Regions from separate parts of the Homo sapiens genome. Here region 2 is linked to region 1. Evidence: fine-mapped expression QTL. Tissue or cell type: thyroid. Region 1 holds a variant in brackets; the other region holds the start of a gene. All regions are shown on one strand. Distances are between the middles of the regions.

Region 1 (8,000 bases):
AAGTGATTCTCCTGCTTCAGCCTCCCGCATAGCTGGGATTACAGGCATGCACCAGCATACCTGGCTAATTTTTGTATTTTTCTAGAGACAGGGTTTCACCATGTTGGCCAGGCTGGTCCTGAACTCCTGACCTCAGGTGATCCACCTGCCTCGGCCTCCCAAAGTGCTGGGATTACAGGTGTGAGCCACCACGTCCAGCCACAGATATTATTTTATTTTATTTTATTTTATTATTTATTTATTTATTTTTTGAGATGGAATCTCGCTCTGTCACCCAGGCTGGAGTGCAGTGGCGCGATCTCGGCTCACTGATAGCTCCGCCTCCCGGGTTCATGCCATTCTCCTGCCTCAGCCTCCCGAGTAGCTGGGACTACAGGCGCCCGCCACCACACCCTGCTAATTTTTTGTATTTTTAGTAGAGACAGGGTTTCACCATGTTAGCCAGGATGGTCTCGATCTCCTGACCTCGTGATCCACCCGCCTTGGCCTCCCAAAGTGCTGGGATTACACTCATGAGCCACCGTGCCTGGCCTGATATTCTTTTATATTAATCAAATACTGTATTTAGTCCAGGAGCAGTGGCTCACGCCTGTAATCTCAACACTTTGGGAGCCTGAGTTGGGTGGATTGTTTGAGCCTAGGAGTTCAAGACCAGCCTAGGCAACATGGCAAAACCCAATCTCTACTAAAAATACAAAAATTAGCCAGGTGTGGTGGTACTACATGTCTGTAGTCCCAGCTACTTGGGAGGCACAAGAATCACTTGAACCTGGGAGGTGGAAGTCACAGTGAGCCAAGATCGCAGCACTGCCCTCCAGCCTGGGCAACAGGTAAGACTCGGTCTCAAAAAAAAAAAAAAAAAAAAATATATATATATATATATATATATATATATATAAAAAATACTACTGTTTTATCTGTTTAAATACTATATATATAATCTGTTTAAATGCTATATATAGGCCGGGCGCTGTGGCTCACACCTGTAATCCCAGCACTTTGGGAGGCCTAGGAGGGCGGATCCCGAGGTCAGGAGATCAAGACCATCCTGGCTAACAGGGTGAAACCCCATGTCTACTAAAATAAAAAAAAAAATTAGCGGGGTGTGGTGGCGGGCACCTGTAGTCCCAGCTACTCAGGAGACTGAGGCAGGAGAATGGCGTGAACCCGGGAGGCAGAGCTTGCAGTGAGCCAAGATCGCGCCACTGCAATCCAGCCTGGGCGAAAGCGAGTCTCCGTCTCAAAAAAATAAATAAAATAAAAATAAATAAATAAATACAATATACATCTGCACACACATATATATACTATAGTGTGTATATGTGTATACACATATATACTATAATGTGTATATATACCATATATATAGTATATGTGTGTGTGTGTATATATAGTATTTGGTATTTAAATAGATTAAACAAGGAATAAACACAAACTTAATTGACCTTCTTCTCCCCAGTAAAACATCCCACCCAAGTGGGTGGGTTCTGGGGGCTGAGCTCCTCTCCCTGCTACCCCTCATGGATATCCCATCACACTCAGCTAGAGGGGGTGCGAATCCCAGATCCCTTCCCCCCTCTCAATCTCCCAGCCCGACTGAATGTCCCACAAAGTTATTCTCTCATTTACCAGCAGGTAAGAGTCAAATATCGTTTGGAGTGCTAGGCTGGAAAGTGGGACAGAGTTCCCTACCTCTGGGAGCGCCAAAGTCATTTGGAAAGATAAAATGCAAGAGAAAGACGTGCAGGGTGGCCAGGCACGGTAGCTCACGCCTGTAATCCCAGCACTTTGGGAGGCTTGGGTTGGCAGATCAGTTGAGGTCAGAAGTTCGAGCCTGGCCAACATGGTGAAACCCCGTCTCTACTAAAAATACAAAAAATTTAGCTGGGTGTGGTGATGCAAGCCTGTAATCCCAGCTACTCGGGAGGCCAAGGCAGGAGAATCGCTTGAACCCAGGAGGCAGAGGTTTCAGTGAGCCGAAATCCCGCCACTGCACTCCAGCCTGGGCGACTGGGCGACACTCCTGGCAAACATCCCTCTCCTGGTTCAGTGCTCTTGCACTATATTAATAGTGATAGAGAGTACAGGAGATGGGAGGTAACACGTATGACCTGTCTCAAGCTGTTCATTCCCATCAAAGGCAGGGGGGTCAGGAGGGCTTAGTCTGCCATCCATCCATCCAACCATCTCCCCATCCATCCAACCCTCTATCCATCCATCCATCCATCCATCCATCCATCCATACATACATACATACATCTATCCATACATCTCCCCATCCATCCAACCCTCTATCCATCTGTCCATCCATCCATCCATCCATCCATACATACATACATACATCTATCCATACATCTACCCATCCATCCAACCAACCATCTATCTATCTGTAATAGGCAGACTAATGTCCCCCAAAAGATGTCTCCATCCTAATCCTAGAGCCTGTGATTATGTTACTTAACATGGCAAAGGGGGATTAAGGTTGCAGATGGAATTAAGGTTGCTAATCATCTGGTGTTAAAATAGGGGGATTATCTTGGATTATCTGGGTGGGCCCAAGGTAATCATATGGGTTCTTAAGAGGAGAAGAGGAACCACAGAGATGGCAGCATGAGAAGGACTTGGTCTTACATTGCTGGCTTTGAAGATGGAGGAAGGGGCCACAAGACAAGAAAAAATGACAGCCCCCAGAAGCTGGAAAGGCAAGGAGGACATGGATGCTCCATTAGAGCCTCCAGAATGCAACCCTGCTGACACCTTGATTTTAGTCCAGTGAGACCCCTTTCAGGTTTCTGACCTCCAGAATTGTAAGATAATACATTTGTGTTGTTTTAAACCATGAAACTTGTGATAATCTGTTACAGCAGCAATAGGAAACTAACACAGCAACTAACGAGCCAGCCCTTCATGCAACCATCCACCCAACCACCTATCCAACCATCCATCCAACCATCCATCCAACTGTCCATCCAACCATCCATCTAACCATCCATCCAACAATCCATCTGTCCATTTAACTAACTAACCACCCATTTAAGAAATATTCATTGACCGTCCCCCTTGTGTCACCTGGCAAGCTGTGAAAAAAAAGTGGGCAAATTACTGAAGCTCCCCACCCATTGGGAGCAATAGATACAGGATTTCAATCCAGGATCCTCAATGCTATGATGGTAGAATATGAAGCACTTGGGAAGGATTATGGGAGGCTTGATGGCTTTTGGTGGCAGGAACAAGGCAGGGAA[C/T]GCTGTAAAACAATTGTGAGTCCCATTGATTTTTTTTCCTTTTTCTTTTTCTTTTTTCTTTTCTTTTTTTTTTTTTTTTTTTTTTGAGACGGAGTTTTGCACTTGTCACCCAGGCGGGAGTACAATGGTGCGATCTCCAGTCACTGCAATCTCTGCCTCCTGGGTTCAAGGGATTCTCCTGCCTCAGCCTCCTGAGTAGGTGGGATTATAGGCACCTGCCACCATTCCCAGCTAATTTTTGTATTTTTAGTAGAGACAGGGTTTCACCATGTTGGCCAAGCTGCTCTCGAACTCCTGACCTCAGGTGATCCACCTACCTCGGCCTCCCAAAGTTCTGGGATTATAGGCGTGAGCCACCAAACCCATCCGATGTTTTTTTCTTTTAATTTTTTTTTTTTTTTTTTTTTTTGAGACGGAGTTTCGCTCTCGTCGCCCAGGCTGGAGTGCAATGGTGCGATCTTGGCTCACTGCAACCTCTGCCTCCCAGGTTCAAACAATTCTCCTGCCTCAGCCTCCTGAGTAGCTGGGATTATAGGTGCCCACCACCACGCCCAGCTAATTTTTGTATTTTTAATACAGACCGGGTTTCACCATTTTGGCCAGGCTGGTCTCGAACTCCTGACCTCAGGTGATCCACCCACGTCAGTCTCCCAAAGTGCTGGGATTACAGGTGTGAGCCACCATGCCCGGTGAATTTTTTAAAATTTTGAATAAAAAAAGCCAACAATTGTGAGTCTCTGCAGCCAGCTCCTCACCTGAAGGCTGCCCCTTGAGGCCACTGTCCCTTGCTACCTCTTTCCTCACCCCCGTGTACCTGGAACTCTTTGCCTTGTCCAAGGAGTAGGGCAAGAGGCCTGATCCAACCAGGATTTGTCCTCCTGTTGTGACTTCTGCCTCCTGCTCCTCAGCTTAGGCCTCATGCCTGCCATACTTTCTGCACAGCCCTGAGGCTCTGAGGTTCACTCTTGCTGCCACCTAAGCCACCAGCCCATCAGTTAGCAGTGAATGGCCATGACACCCACATTCTTGGTACCAGTGAGGAGCACCTGCTCAAGGGTTAGGCTGAGCCTAGTTCTTGGGCTGTGTGATCTCAGGACTGCCCCTGTCTGGGTCTTCACACCCTCATCTACAGAATGGGAATAATGATAGCTCCTCCTTTCAGGGCTGTAGTCAAGCTCAAGAGAACTCATGTTGAAGACCAGCCTGCACAGATCCTGGCATACAGGAACCCTGCCACCATCACCGCCTGGAAGGTGCTAGATTATTATATTGGGGGATGGAGTTGTTGGCACTTAGCTCCTCCCCACCGGAAAGGACCAGTTTCCTGTCCGTGAGTTGTTAGCTTTGACATGCTGAGCTATAGCCCCGTGGAGCCTGATCACAGGGGAGCCTGCGATCCACGGACAAGAGAGTTGCCCAGTATCTTGTAGGGCCATGGGCACAGTCCTCCCCAGCCCGGCTCATGTCACGATCTTCCAGGAACAGCCTGTACTTTGGCATGGCCCTGAGAAAGAGCAAAGACGGTGTTGCCCATCCTGTTCCAATCTTGTCACAGGAAGGATATGTGTCTGGCCATGTCCAGCAGATGTTTCAGGCCAAGTGTGTAGCCCAGGATAGCTTCCTGGGCAGCTGGCCCCAGGTTGGGTGTGGGGGAAGGGAGGGCAAAGGTCAACATTGAGAAGGGACAGCAAAAAGGGCTCAGGGTAGAATTTCAGACCCGATTGCCTAGGGCAGATTGGGGTAAGGTGTTCCCAAGCTTCTTACAGGGTCAGCCGCCATGAGGGTCACCCAGGTACCACGTTGGAGGCCTGCTTAGCCAACCTCGACTAGATGTGAGTGGCTCTTCTCTACACACCCAACTGAGACCACAAATCCCAGATGCATGAACCTGCTGGGTCTGGCCCACCCCAAGCCAGGAGGCAGTGTGGTCAGAATGCCACACCATATGCCAGGAGCTTGGTGTGCCACTCTTGGCTCTGCTATTGCATTCAGGATGTCACTTTATCTCTCCAGGACTCAGTTTCCCCTTCTGGAAAATGGAGCAATACACACTAGCCCACCATTTGTGGAATGCCTGGGTACTGTGCCCAGAGATCTTTTGATGTTTAATCTCATTGCTCACCTGATTCTGAATACAAAAGTTGAGGCTTCAGGAGGAAGCAGGCTGCCCAAGCCCATGATCCATGGAGGCAGCTTGTATGTGGGTCTGGCTGACTGGGTGCTGGTGCAGAGCTGAGCTGGGGCAGCTGCCTGTTGGCTCTGAGACCACTGTGCTTGCTGGGCTCGGTCTGCCCCACCCCATCCTCCCCTGGAACAGGTTTTCTACTCAGAAGTTGGCCTCTAAGGATCTCCCACCCAAAGGGCTGAAGCTCTGGATGCTCATTTTTCCCTGACTCGCTTGGGAGCCTGGTGAGATGTAAGGGACCCCCTGTTTTTCATCCCTCTCTTCACTCTCTCCTCCTAGCTGCATTCTCTGCCCAGCTCTGGATCCTGGAGGTGAGATCAAATGGGAGAATTCTGTTGGCCCAGGCAATGTCATCTTCCTTCAGATGTGTGACACCTTCCTAAGTCTGGCCAGGCAGCAGGGACAGAGACTCAGGCCCACCTGGGACCTGGTGACCCAGGCTGTTCAGTGGCAGCCAGAGGTGGGGGCACAGACTAGGGGTGTTCATTGTACAGACACCCTTATATCCTGAAGGGGATCCAGCTGGGATTAGGCTGGATGCCAAATAAGACAGGCAGCATGTGGAAGCCCAGGACCCGGGTTCAAGTCCTACATCCACTAGAGCAGGCTAGGAGAGCTTAGATAAGTCACTCATCTGTCCATCCATGCATCAACCACCCACAATCCATACAACACACATTTATAAGGCATCCTCTGTGTGTCAGGTGCCATGAGCAGGTGAAAACCTGCCCTCAGAGGTTGCAAAGGTGTAAGCATGGGAACAATCTCATAAGAACAGAGAGATGAGAGCAGGGTGTGTGCAAGCAGGATCCTGGTGTTGTGCAGGGTACAGCTTGCCCTAGTGGACAATGATGATGCAGCAGAGGTGGACCCAGAGACGACCAGGCAGTTGGGGCTCCAGGTTGGGTGCACACGTGTGCATGTGTCACAGGACTCTGACTCTGGGGGCTGTTGGTAGAAGCCTGGAGGCCCCATATCCCTGCGGTAGTCGCCACACTACAGCAAAGTAGTGTGTTTGACAGGAAATACCTCGGCAGCCATTGCAATTTAGGTTGCAGAGCACAGAGCAGTTGCCCCCGCGATGGTCAGGAAGCCCAGACCAGCAGAAAGGGGTGGAGAGAAGGGACTTCACCTGCTCTGCCCTCAGACTCTGCTCCCAGCTTCTGGCCTCAGGCTACACCAAGCCCCAGGATCCAGTGCGTGCATTAAAGGAAGTCCGCAAAGCCTTCCTGGCCTTCTTATCAGGGATGGCTTTGGGAAGGCGTGGGTTGGCAGCAAGGCCTCTAGGGGGCCACCCTGGAGTTAGGCTTAGGGACGAGGGGGTAGCGTGACTTTTTTGTGGCAGCTCTCAAATGCTGGTGTCCAGCCTCCCAGTGCAGTCCCATCTCCTTCCTGTCTCTAACCTACCTCGTTGTGGTGGCTTCATCTCTGGCTGGGCCAGAACCCCACTGGAAGACTACAGTGGACACCTCTCTGAGGCCCACTCCAGCCAACTGGGTGGGTGAACTCAGCTTAGTCTCTTGACCTCTTTGGGCTGGGAGTACCCTTCTGAGCAGGTACCTTTGGGCCTCCAAGTCCCCAAGGGAAACAAAGAAAGGGACTTTCAATCCTAGCACAGAACCAAGAAAGGAAACAGGTCAGGAAGGAGGTGGCCAAGGTACTTCTTGCATGCTGGACCTTGATGACGGGAGGCCCCACATCCCACATCAGCCTCCCTCTAGACTCCAGTGTGTCCACCCCACTCCCTCCTGGGGTAGGGCCCATCTAGCTGCTTCCAGCCAGTTGCCTGGTGCATGGTCGGTGCTTGCAGAGGGAGTGCCCTGCCTCTCTGTCTGTGCTTTCTGTAGGGGAGGATCCACTTTCAGACCCTCACACGCCCTGTTCCTTCTGCCTGGGACAGTGTACACCTCACCTGACGGAGCCTAAAGGTCACTGCCTCTGGGAAGCCTTCCAGGACCACTTTAGTCAGGCCAGGCCCTGCACGCTTGTCTTGCTTTGTCCAGCTCCATCTCCTCTTCTGAGTGAGGGGACTCCCCAAGGGCAGGCCTGGGCCCCCAGCATGCCCTGGGCTGTGCCGGGGCTCTCAGGAGAGCTTTTAACTTCCTCTTATCTGCCATTCCTACTCCTGAACACAGTCTGCTATCTTTCCCCTGGAAGAGCTGAGCAGGAGGGGAAGCAGCCACTTCACCTCAGCAAGACCTCTTGGATGCCGCTTTCTGGGTTTTTGCCACTCCCCTAGCAGCCATCTTCCCTGAGGGCTACCAGGGCTTCGGGCATCCATCTCTTCTCTTCCAGAGCTACCTTCTGCAGGAGAGATCGTGAGCAGGAAGGGAACAGGGCTAGGAAAGGGGGCTGGGGGCTCCAGGGGAAGATCCCTGAAAGACACACTGCACCCCAGCTGTCTGTCCCTGCAGCATGCGATGGAGGCTGGGGGTGGGGGATGGGGGAGATGGCAGGGGCTGGTCCTCGGTCCAAATCCAGGTCACTCCCAGCCTGTTCAGCAGCCGCTCAGTAATTAGGGGCCAGCAGGACGTGGGCAGGCAGGTGGCAGGAAGCCTAATTGTCTGATTTTT
Region 2 (8,000 bases), 38 kb before region 1:
CAGGGGCACCTCAGCTTCCCACACAAGGGTACCTTCACACTGGCATAGTTGGCAGCATTGATTTTGTCAGTGCAGATGGGGGCCACTGGCACAAAGCCCGGGAGCTGGGAGCCAGGGGCCGTGAGGAAGGGCAGGGAGTACATGCCACTCAGTGATGGACTGATCACAACCGGGGGGCCCAGCTCCAAGGCATCCACCACAGCCGCCAGGAAGCTGCCAGGGGCCAGCTCCCCAATAGGGGCAGGGGCTGCTGCTTCCTTGGAGTGCCCCAGACCTGCAGGGATTCAGGTGTGAAAGAGACAAGACAAGGGCAGTGAATGGCAAAACAAGGGAGATGGTTGCTCTCTCCAGGAAGCCCTCCTAGGTCAGTTTCTCTGTGGCCAGGTTCCTGTAACACCCAGTGTGCCCACGTTTATTCCTACAGTAGCCTCATTCTATCTTATCGTGCCAAGCATGAGGCACTTCTCTCCACGTCTGTGCCTGTCTCCCCAGCAGTAAGTGTCCTGGAGAGAATCAGGCTCTGAAGCCCAAGAAGTCTGGGTCCAGAACCCAATTCTGCATTTATTGTCTATGTGACCTTGGGTAGGTCCCCCTCAGTCCTCTCTCAGCTGCTCAGTTTCCCCATCTGTTAAAGGGGGATAACAAAAGTATCTGCCATTTAAGATTGTTGTGAAAATTAACTGTGTGAAAGGCACCTGGCCCTGGATTGGGACAAGAGAGGCTCCTGAAGGACAGCAGCTGAGGGGTCGGTTCTGCAGCTCCTCCTCCAGTCATTCAGGCTTCACCAACAAGATTAGCTCCAGACCTTCACCCTGAAGCTCAAGCCAACCCACCATTGGAATCAATCCTGCCTGGGCAGGAGGCTCGCCCTTGAGCCCTGAAACCATACCATCCCTGGCCTGAGGGGGTGGGGCCAGCCATGCTGCTCCTTTCACACCTGGCACCGAGGGTTGGGACCCAGCCATCTGGGTTATGACAGGCAGTCTGGGCACTGATCCCATCTACCCTAGAACCCAGCTCAGGGCTTTGCATGTGGGATCACAAGTGGGGGCCTGGCCACCCACCAGGCCCTGCCTTGTCCCCCAGAAGACTCAGGTCTCACTCCTTAGGGCTTCCAAAAGCCTATGGTTATTATTCAGTCAAAATACTTTACTTCCAATTGGCTGAGCACCGATTACTCTGTGTCAGGTACTAGCCACATACTCACATGGATTATCTCATTCCATTCTCATTAGAGCGAGCCCAAAACATGAGTGTGGTTATCTCCCATTGCAGATGAGGAAACAGAGGCTCAGAGACACTGAGACAATGCCCAGGTAACAGTGAGGAGCAGCTGGGCGGTGAGGACCACATCTGGATCAAGACTGCTCAGAGGCCCTTGCAGTGTGCTTGACCAAACGCTGTCAAGTTCAGGGCCCAGCCTGGCTGGGTCCTCCAGATCCCACCGCCCCCACCCCTGGAGTGGGGAGGGGCTACATGTTATAGGAACCTGGCCCTGTCCCTAATGAGACCTCCCCAAACCCTGCCCAGAAGCCTGCCCCTTAAGTACCTGGCAGGTCAATGGCCACAGCCCGGTAGCCAGCCTGGGCCAGCCTGTGCAGTGTACCCAGGTTCTGCCAGGTCTCGGAGGAGAAGCGAATACCATGCAGCAGCAGTACAGAGAAGCGAGCCTGCCCACTGCCGGGCAGGGCCTCTCGGAAGAAGAGGGCCTGGCCCTGCACCTGGATGGTGCCCTCGCGCTGCTCCACGCTTGCTGCCATGCCTGCTGCTGCTGTGCTGGTGAAGGGCCTGTGGTTCAAAACCACGATGATGAGGGGCCACAGAACACCCTGCCCAGGGTGGCAGTCCCAGAGGAGCAGCAAGGAAGCCTCCAGGAGGTTTCCAGAACTTTAAGAACATGCCTTGGGGTCAGGAGGACATAGGTGTTATTTCTGCCTCTGCCATTTACTTTAGTGTGTAACCTGGGGCCTCAGCTTCTTGATCTGAAATATGGGAACAATAAAGCCAACTTCAAGAATTAGCAATTTAATTAAAAGTTTAAGAAAAATTATCGGCCAGGCATGGTGGCTCACGCCTGTAATCCCAGCACTTTGGGAGGCCGAGGCGGGTGGATCACCTGAGGTCAGGAGTTCAAGACCACCCTGGCCAACATGGTGGAACCCCGTCTCTACTAAAAAGAAAAAAAAATTAGCCAGGTGTGGTGGCACGTGCCTGTAGTCCCAGCTACTCAGCAGGAGAATCGCTTGAACCCGGGAGGCAGAGGTTGCAGTGAGCCGAGATCGTGCCACTGTGCTCCAGCCTGGGTGACAGAGTGAGACTCGGTCACAAAAAAAAAAAAAAAAAAGAGCCAGCTGATGGTCACATGTAACTCTCATTAGGCCAGGCGCGGTGGCACACGCCTGTAATCCCAGCATTTTGGGAGGCCGAGGCGGGCGGATCACCTGAGGTCAGGAGTTCGAGATCTCCCTGATGAACATGCAGAAAGAAACCCCATCTCTACTCAAAATACAAAATTAGCCAGCTGTGGTGGCACACGCCTGTAATCCCAACTACTTGGGAAGCTAAGGCAGTAGAATTGCTTGCACCCAGGAGGCAGAGGTTGCAGTGAGCCGAGAACGCGCCATTGCACTCCAGACTGGGCAACAAGAGAAAAACTCCATCTCAAAAAAACAAAAAACAGAAAAATTATCAGTGGGGGTGCCTGCTGTAAAACCTCAATATGTGGTGGGGCTCCATTACAATTACTGTTCTTATTCTCATCGTTATTATCCTTTTCTATAAATGGGGATAATTCAATAGTACTAGCTCATAGGTGGTTGATAGGATTAAATAAGGCCATGCATGTACCATGCCTAGCACGTAGTAAGGGCTCAGTGCTCAATCAACGGTAAGTTACAGGTCATGAGTTGTCAATGCAGGCCAGAGGGAGCCCAAATTGGGGTAAAAAGCCCATTTTATTTTATTTTATTCTATTTATTTATTTTGGGACAGAGTTTCACTCTTGTTGCCCAGAATGGAGTGCAGTGGCATGATCTCGGCTCACTGCAACCTCCACCTCCTGGGTTCAAGCGATTCTCCTGCCTCAGCCTCCCGAGTAGCTGGGTTTACAGGCGTGCGTCACCATGCCTGGCTAATTTTTTTTTTTTTTTTTTTGAGACGGAGTCTCGCTCTGTCGCCCAGGCTGGAGTGCAATGGCACATCTCCGCTCACTGCAAGCTCCGCCTCCCGGGTTCACGCCATTCTCCTGCCTCAGCCTCCCGGGTAGCTGGGACTACAGGCACGCGCCACCACGCCCGGCTAATTTTTTGTTTTTTTTTTTTTAGTACAGACGGGGTTTCGCCGTGTTAGCCAGGGTGGTCTCGATCTCCTGACCTCGTGATCCGCCCGCCTCAGCCTCCCAAAGTGCTGGGATTACAGGCGTGAGCCACCGTGCACGGCCTAATTTTTATATTTTTAGTAGAAACGGGGTTTCATCATGTTGGCCGAGCTGGTCCGGAACTCCTGACCTCAAGTGATCCACCCACCTTGGCCTCCCAAAGTGCTGGGATTACAGGCGTGAGCCACCGCGCCGGAACTAAAAGCCCATTTTCTTCGGTTTTTTTTTTTTTCTTTTTTTTTTTTTTAAGAGAAGATGTCTCGCTCTGTCGTCCAGGCTGGAGTGCAGTGGCGCAATCATGGATCACTGCAGCCTTGACCTTCCTGGGCTCAAGTGATCCTCCCGGCTCACCCCCAGTAGCTGGAACCACAGGCGCGCTTCCACACCGGAAAGCCCATTTTCTAGAGGCGGAAACCGAAGCGCCCAGTGGGAAAGGCGACCCGCCGGGGATGCGGGGTGCTCAACGCGCTGCCACCTGGGGCCCAACGCGTTGACCTCGCGGTCAGGTTGCTTCCGCGGACTACGGTTCTGGCTCGCTAGCTCTGGAAGGGAGCACCGGGAGGGAATGGTGGCAACTCCCAAGGAGGGGACCCAGGGATCCGAGAAAGGAAGACTTGGGGTAGGTGGGGTTGGATTTTGACTGGAGAGAAGAAAGGGTCAGGAGTGCAGGGCGGGTACCTGGGGAGCTGCGTGGACTCGCGCAGACGGGAAGCAGGCGCGTGCTGGCGGTGACCTGGGGCCGGAGGAGGAACGCTGGGAAGAGGCCGGGCCCCATCCAGCGGGGGCGGGGACTGGGCCGTGCTCCGGGGCGCCCTCTTGTGGCCACAAGCTCGCAGCGTCCATAGACTCCGCTAAACTCGTTCTCACAGCGGCGTCAGTTTCCCAAAGCCTCTCGGTCTCACATGCCCCAAACGCGGTGCTGAGCACGGTTTCGAACTCTTCAGCGACCTGCCCCACATGGACATGGAGCAGTCTGAGGAGGAAAGTTCCTTCGGGATCGCATCCTTGCTGCTGTCTTCCTGCTCCCCATCCCCCTTATCCCCAGCTTGAACTGCCCAGGGCAACTTGTTGGCCTGGCACGGAGTTGAGGCCCGACAGGTTTGAGTGCGAGGCTCCGCCAGTGTCCAGCCAAGTGGCCTTGATCGTTTTCCCAATGCCCCCGAGCCTGTTTCCTGCCAGTAGAGCGGGTCAGATGTTGCCAACCTCTGCAGAGTAGCAATAAGCAGTAAACGCCACGCTCTGCACAGCCTCCCAGTGCTGGGCCTGGTCGCCACGCGGAGCCTTGGGCTGGGACAGGCCAGACGTTGGTAACACATCGCCAACCAGGGCAGGCGCCATGAGTAGACGTGAACGAGCCCAGGGCCAGCCCAGGCTCTGACCGTGGGTGTGCGTCGGGGAGGGGGTGGGGAGGAGTGGGTAGGAGTCAGGAAAGTGGGTCGGCCAAGACCTGGAGCTGCTGCATAACAATATCTGGCATTTACACAACGAGGCCTCTGCTCCGGACACTGTTCTGAGGCTTGACCCGTCCTTAAGAACCTAGGACAACCCTGTGCGGTGGGTTTTATCCTTAACTCCATTATACAGGCCAGAGAACTGAGCCAGGGTGGAGATGTTCCACTGAGAAGAAGCCACATGGCTCTCCGCCGGCTCTCAAGCCAAAAACAGTTCCGAAAATCTGGGCGGGGAGCGGGCCAGAGAGCGCTGGGGCTCTGCCCCCAGCACCCCCTCCACGCAGACGACTCGGTAACTGGGTTGCAGGCCCGCGGCTGCGGAGTGCGCAGGCGCGCCGAGATGGCCGCGCTCCTGGCCGCCTAGAGCCGGAGCGGCCCGCGGAGCTGCGGAGGCAGCCATGGTCGGGGCGCTGTGCGGCTGCTGGTTCCGCCTGGGCGGGGCCCGCCCGCTCATCCCGTTGGGCCCGGTGAGTCTCCCGGGGGAGGGAGGCCGGCCGGTGGCCCAGGGGAGGGCCGTCTTTACCCCGCCCCTTGCCCCGGCGCCCCGGGGCAGAGTCCCGCGGAAGAAGCAGACGCTGGGGCCGCGAATGTGCATGTGCGCGCGTGTAATGTGTGTGCGCGCGCAGGGTCTGCATATGTTCTTGGGGGTCTGGGTGTATGTGTACGCTTGTGTGTCTGCATGGTGTCCGTCAGTGGGTTTCTGCGCGCTTATATTTTTGGGGGGGGGGTGTGTTCGTTGATGTCTGCCTGCTTGTGTCAGCGTTATGTCTTCCGAGTGTATTTCTGTGTGCGTGTGATTTTAAGGGTATGTGTCTACCTGTCTGCGTGTGTGCATTTCTGGGGGTTTGTGTGTGTGTGCGTGTCTGCTTTCCTGTGCATGTGCCTTTCTTGTGTGAATGTGTAGTCTTACGGTTGTGTGTATGACCGTGCTTGAGTATTTCTGAGGATCAGCCTGTGGTTTTCAAAGTGTGCATCTCCATCAGTCTCTCTGGCTTCCTGATGCCTGACTGTGTGCGTGATGTAGAGGGTACCATTACAAGGGATTAATTGCACACGGGCCAGTGTGTGTGCAAAGAGGCTGCATGTACATGCAGGGAATAGCTTGTGCAAAAGAAAAGCGTGTGGGGGCAAGACTCGTATTTGTGCGTGTGTGCACCTGTGTGTCATTGTCAACGCATATTCCAATGACCTAACCCGGGCACAGTTTACCCTGCCCCCCGCAAACCCCCGCAGGCGGCCAGCTGCAGGTCCACTACAATTTCCTAGTACTGCGGGCACCCTCGGTTGCCAAGGCAACAGCCTAAGCCCCGCCCTTCCCGCTTTGGAGAAGCGCGGGGGCGCCCCGAGTGGGCAGCAAGGAAATGTCCCTCGCGCCCGGTGGGAATCTGGACTAACGCCCAGTTAGAGACGCGCGTCTGAGGTTGTTAGTGGTCTGGAAGAAAAGAGGAACGCGCTCTTCCTCCACTAGGTCCTGGTTTTCCAGAAACAGCAGAAAGGCGGCTGCTGCTGTGGCTCACAAGCCCCCCGACCCCGAAGCCTGGGGATGCGGGCTCAGGAAACATCCCCAAAACATCCCGGAGGGATGAATAGGAACCAAGACGGGCCCCCGGCTCCTAGTTCGGGCAGGCGCCCAGTTGGCACTCAATAAAGATGTGCTGGCCCGGCGCGGTGGCTCACGCCTGTAATCCCAGCACTCTGGGAGGCCGAGGCGGGTGAAACACGAGGCCAGCAGTTCGAGAACAGCCTGGCCAACATGGTGAAACCCTGTCTCTACTAAAAAATACAAAAATTAGCCGGGCGCGGTGGCGGGAGCCTGTAATCCCACTATTCGGGAGGCTGAGGCAGGAGAATTGCTTGAACCCGGGAGGCGGAGGTTGCAGTGAGCCGAGATTGTACCACTGCACTCTAGCCTGGGCGACAGAGCAAGACTCCGTCTCAGAAAAATAAAAATAAAATAAAGATGTGTTTGCTGGACTCCTGGAAGGAAGCAGGCGTGCTCATCCTAGGCCCAAGAAATGACAGGGACAGCCCTGATCCAGTCCACGGTATTATCTAAATCTCACAGGAAGCTTAGGAGGGCAGCCACGAGGTTATCCCATTTTACTGACAAACTGAAGACACAAGGTCAGGAAGTGGCAGTCTCAAAGGCCTGTCCTGTTTGAGTCCTGGGTCCTAAGGGCTGTCCTCTGGGGTGGCAGAGACCCCAGATTGGAGGAGTCCACGAAGCAGTCATTTGGCCAGAAGCTGTCTGTGTGTAGGATGGGGAGTAGCAGGCGGCATTCATCTCTCCAACCTCTACACTGTGCTTTTCATTTCTGGGTGTACCATGCTCCTCCCTGGCCCTGCAGCCCCTCACTCCTCAGCATTTTCCTCTATTACAAGACATTCTCTGTGAGCCTCTTCATAACAGCTGGGTTAGACCTTAGTTATAATGCGATTGTAAAACGCGTTCTGATTTTAGCAGTATTAAATGCAGTGAGATTAAAAGAACCATTTCCAAACATGCCCTTAAGTGGGAGGTCCCTTTGCGCGCAGTCTTTCTCCTTTGATAGCCCTCATCACTTTTTCCACCTGCAAGGCTCCAGTTCATCCATCATCTCCCAGCTCCACGGGTTCCTCCTTGGCAAACCGAGTGTGGCCTGGTAGTTAGAAGCCCATTCCTAGGTTCAAACCCCAATTCCCCCACTTGCTACTTGGCACTTTGGGCAAGAGAATGTACCTCTCTGAGCCTCCATTTCCTCACCTATAAGAGACCTATAATCACGTCTGCTCCCCAGCATTCTTGGTGGAAAAGAACCTTGTATGTGAAGTGCCACACTCAGGGCCTGCTGTCATAAGCGCTTGATGAACGGAAGTGGTTTCAGCTGATGCCATGATGGTGGCGGTCACTGAGCATGCTGTGTGCCAGAGAACACCTCAGATGCACCTCCTCACACTGTGAGGTATCTGAGCGCTTGCCCTGGCATGTGGAGTAGTTGAGTGTGAACTCCCAGAACTTTGCCCAGAGCAAGGGAAAGGGCAAGGGCTGGAGCTCTTCCTCTGCTGGGGACTCTGGGTGGGGTTTTGGGATGGGATCCAGGGTCCTTGTAGGGACTCAGTTCCAGCCTCTTTTCCCTCTCCTCTCCCTCTCCAGACTGTGGTACAGACCTCCATGAGCCGGTCCCAGGTAGCCC

The links. PIP is the estimated chance that this variant, and not a neighbour inherited with it, causes the effect.
Region 2: ABHD14B starts here. The variant in region 1 is fine-mapped to the expression of ABHD14B in thyroid (GTEx, PIP 0.97).

The regions. Positions count from the first base shown.
Region 1 is chr3:52,008,115-52,016,114 of GRCh38, forward strand. No RefSeq gene overlaps it. Among named protein-coding and RNA genes, the nearest start is that of RPL29, 16 kb to the left of the region's middle. RefSeq lists enhancers at 6,915-7,794, 7,470-7,539. The variant C/T (reference allele first, on the strand shown) is at 3,243.
Region 2 is chr3:51,969,911-51,977,910 of GRCh38, forward strand. ABHD14B (abhydrolase domain containing 14B) reads right to left here and starts at 4,139. Exons shown (of 4, transcript NM_001146314.2): 1 at 4,055-4,139; 2 at 1,550-1,788; 3 at 33-274. The coding sequence starts at 1,760. It overlaps ABHD14A-ACY1 (ABHD14A-ACY1 readthrough), which reads left to right and starts at 5,154. Exons shown (of 17, transcript NM_001316331.2): 1 at 5,154-5,294; 2 at 7,961-8,000. It overlaps ABHD14A (abhydrolase domain containing 14A), which reads left to right and starts at 5,154. Exons shown (of 5, transcript NM_015407.5): 1 at 5,154-5,294; 2 at 7,961-8,000. The coding sequence starts at 5,226. RefSeq lists enhancers at 3,328-4,264, 4,298-4,477 and silencers at 3,708-3,857, 4,078-4,247, 5,078-5,457, 6,063-6,357.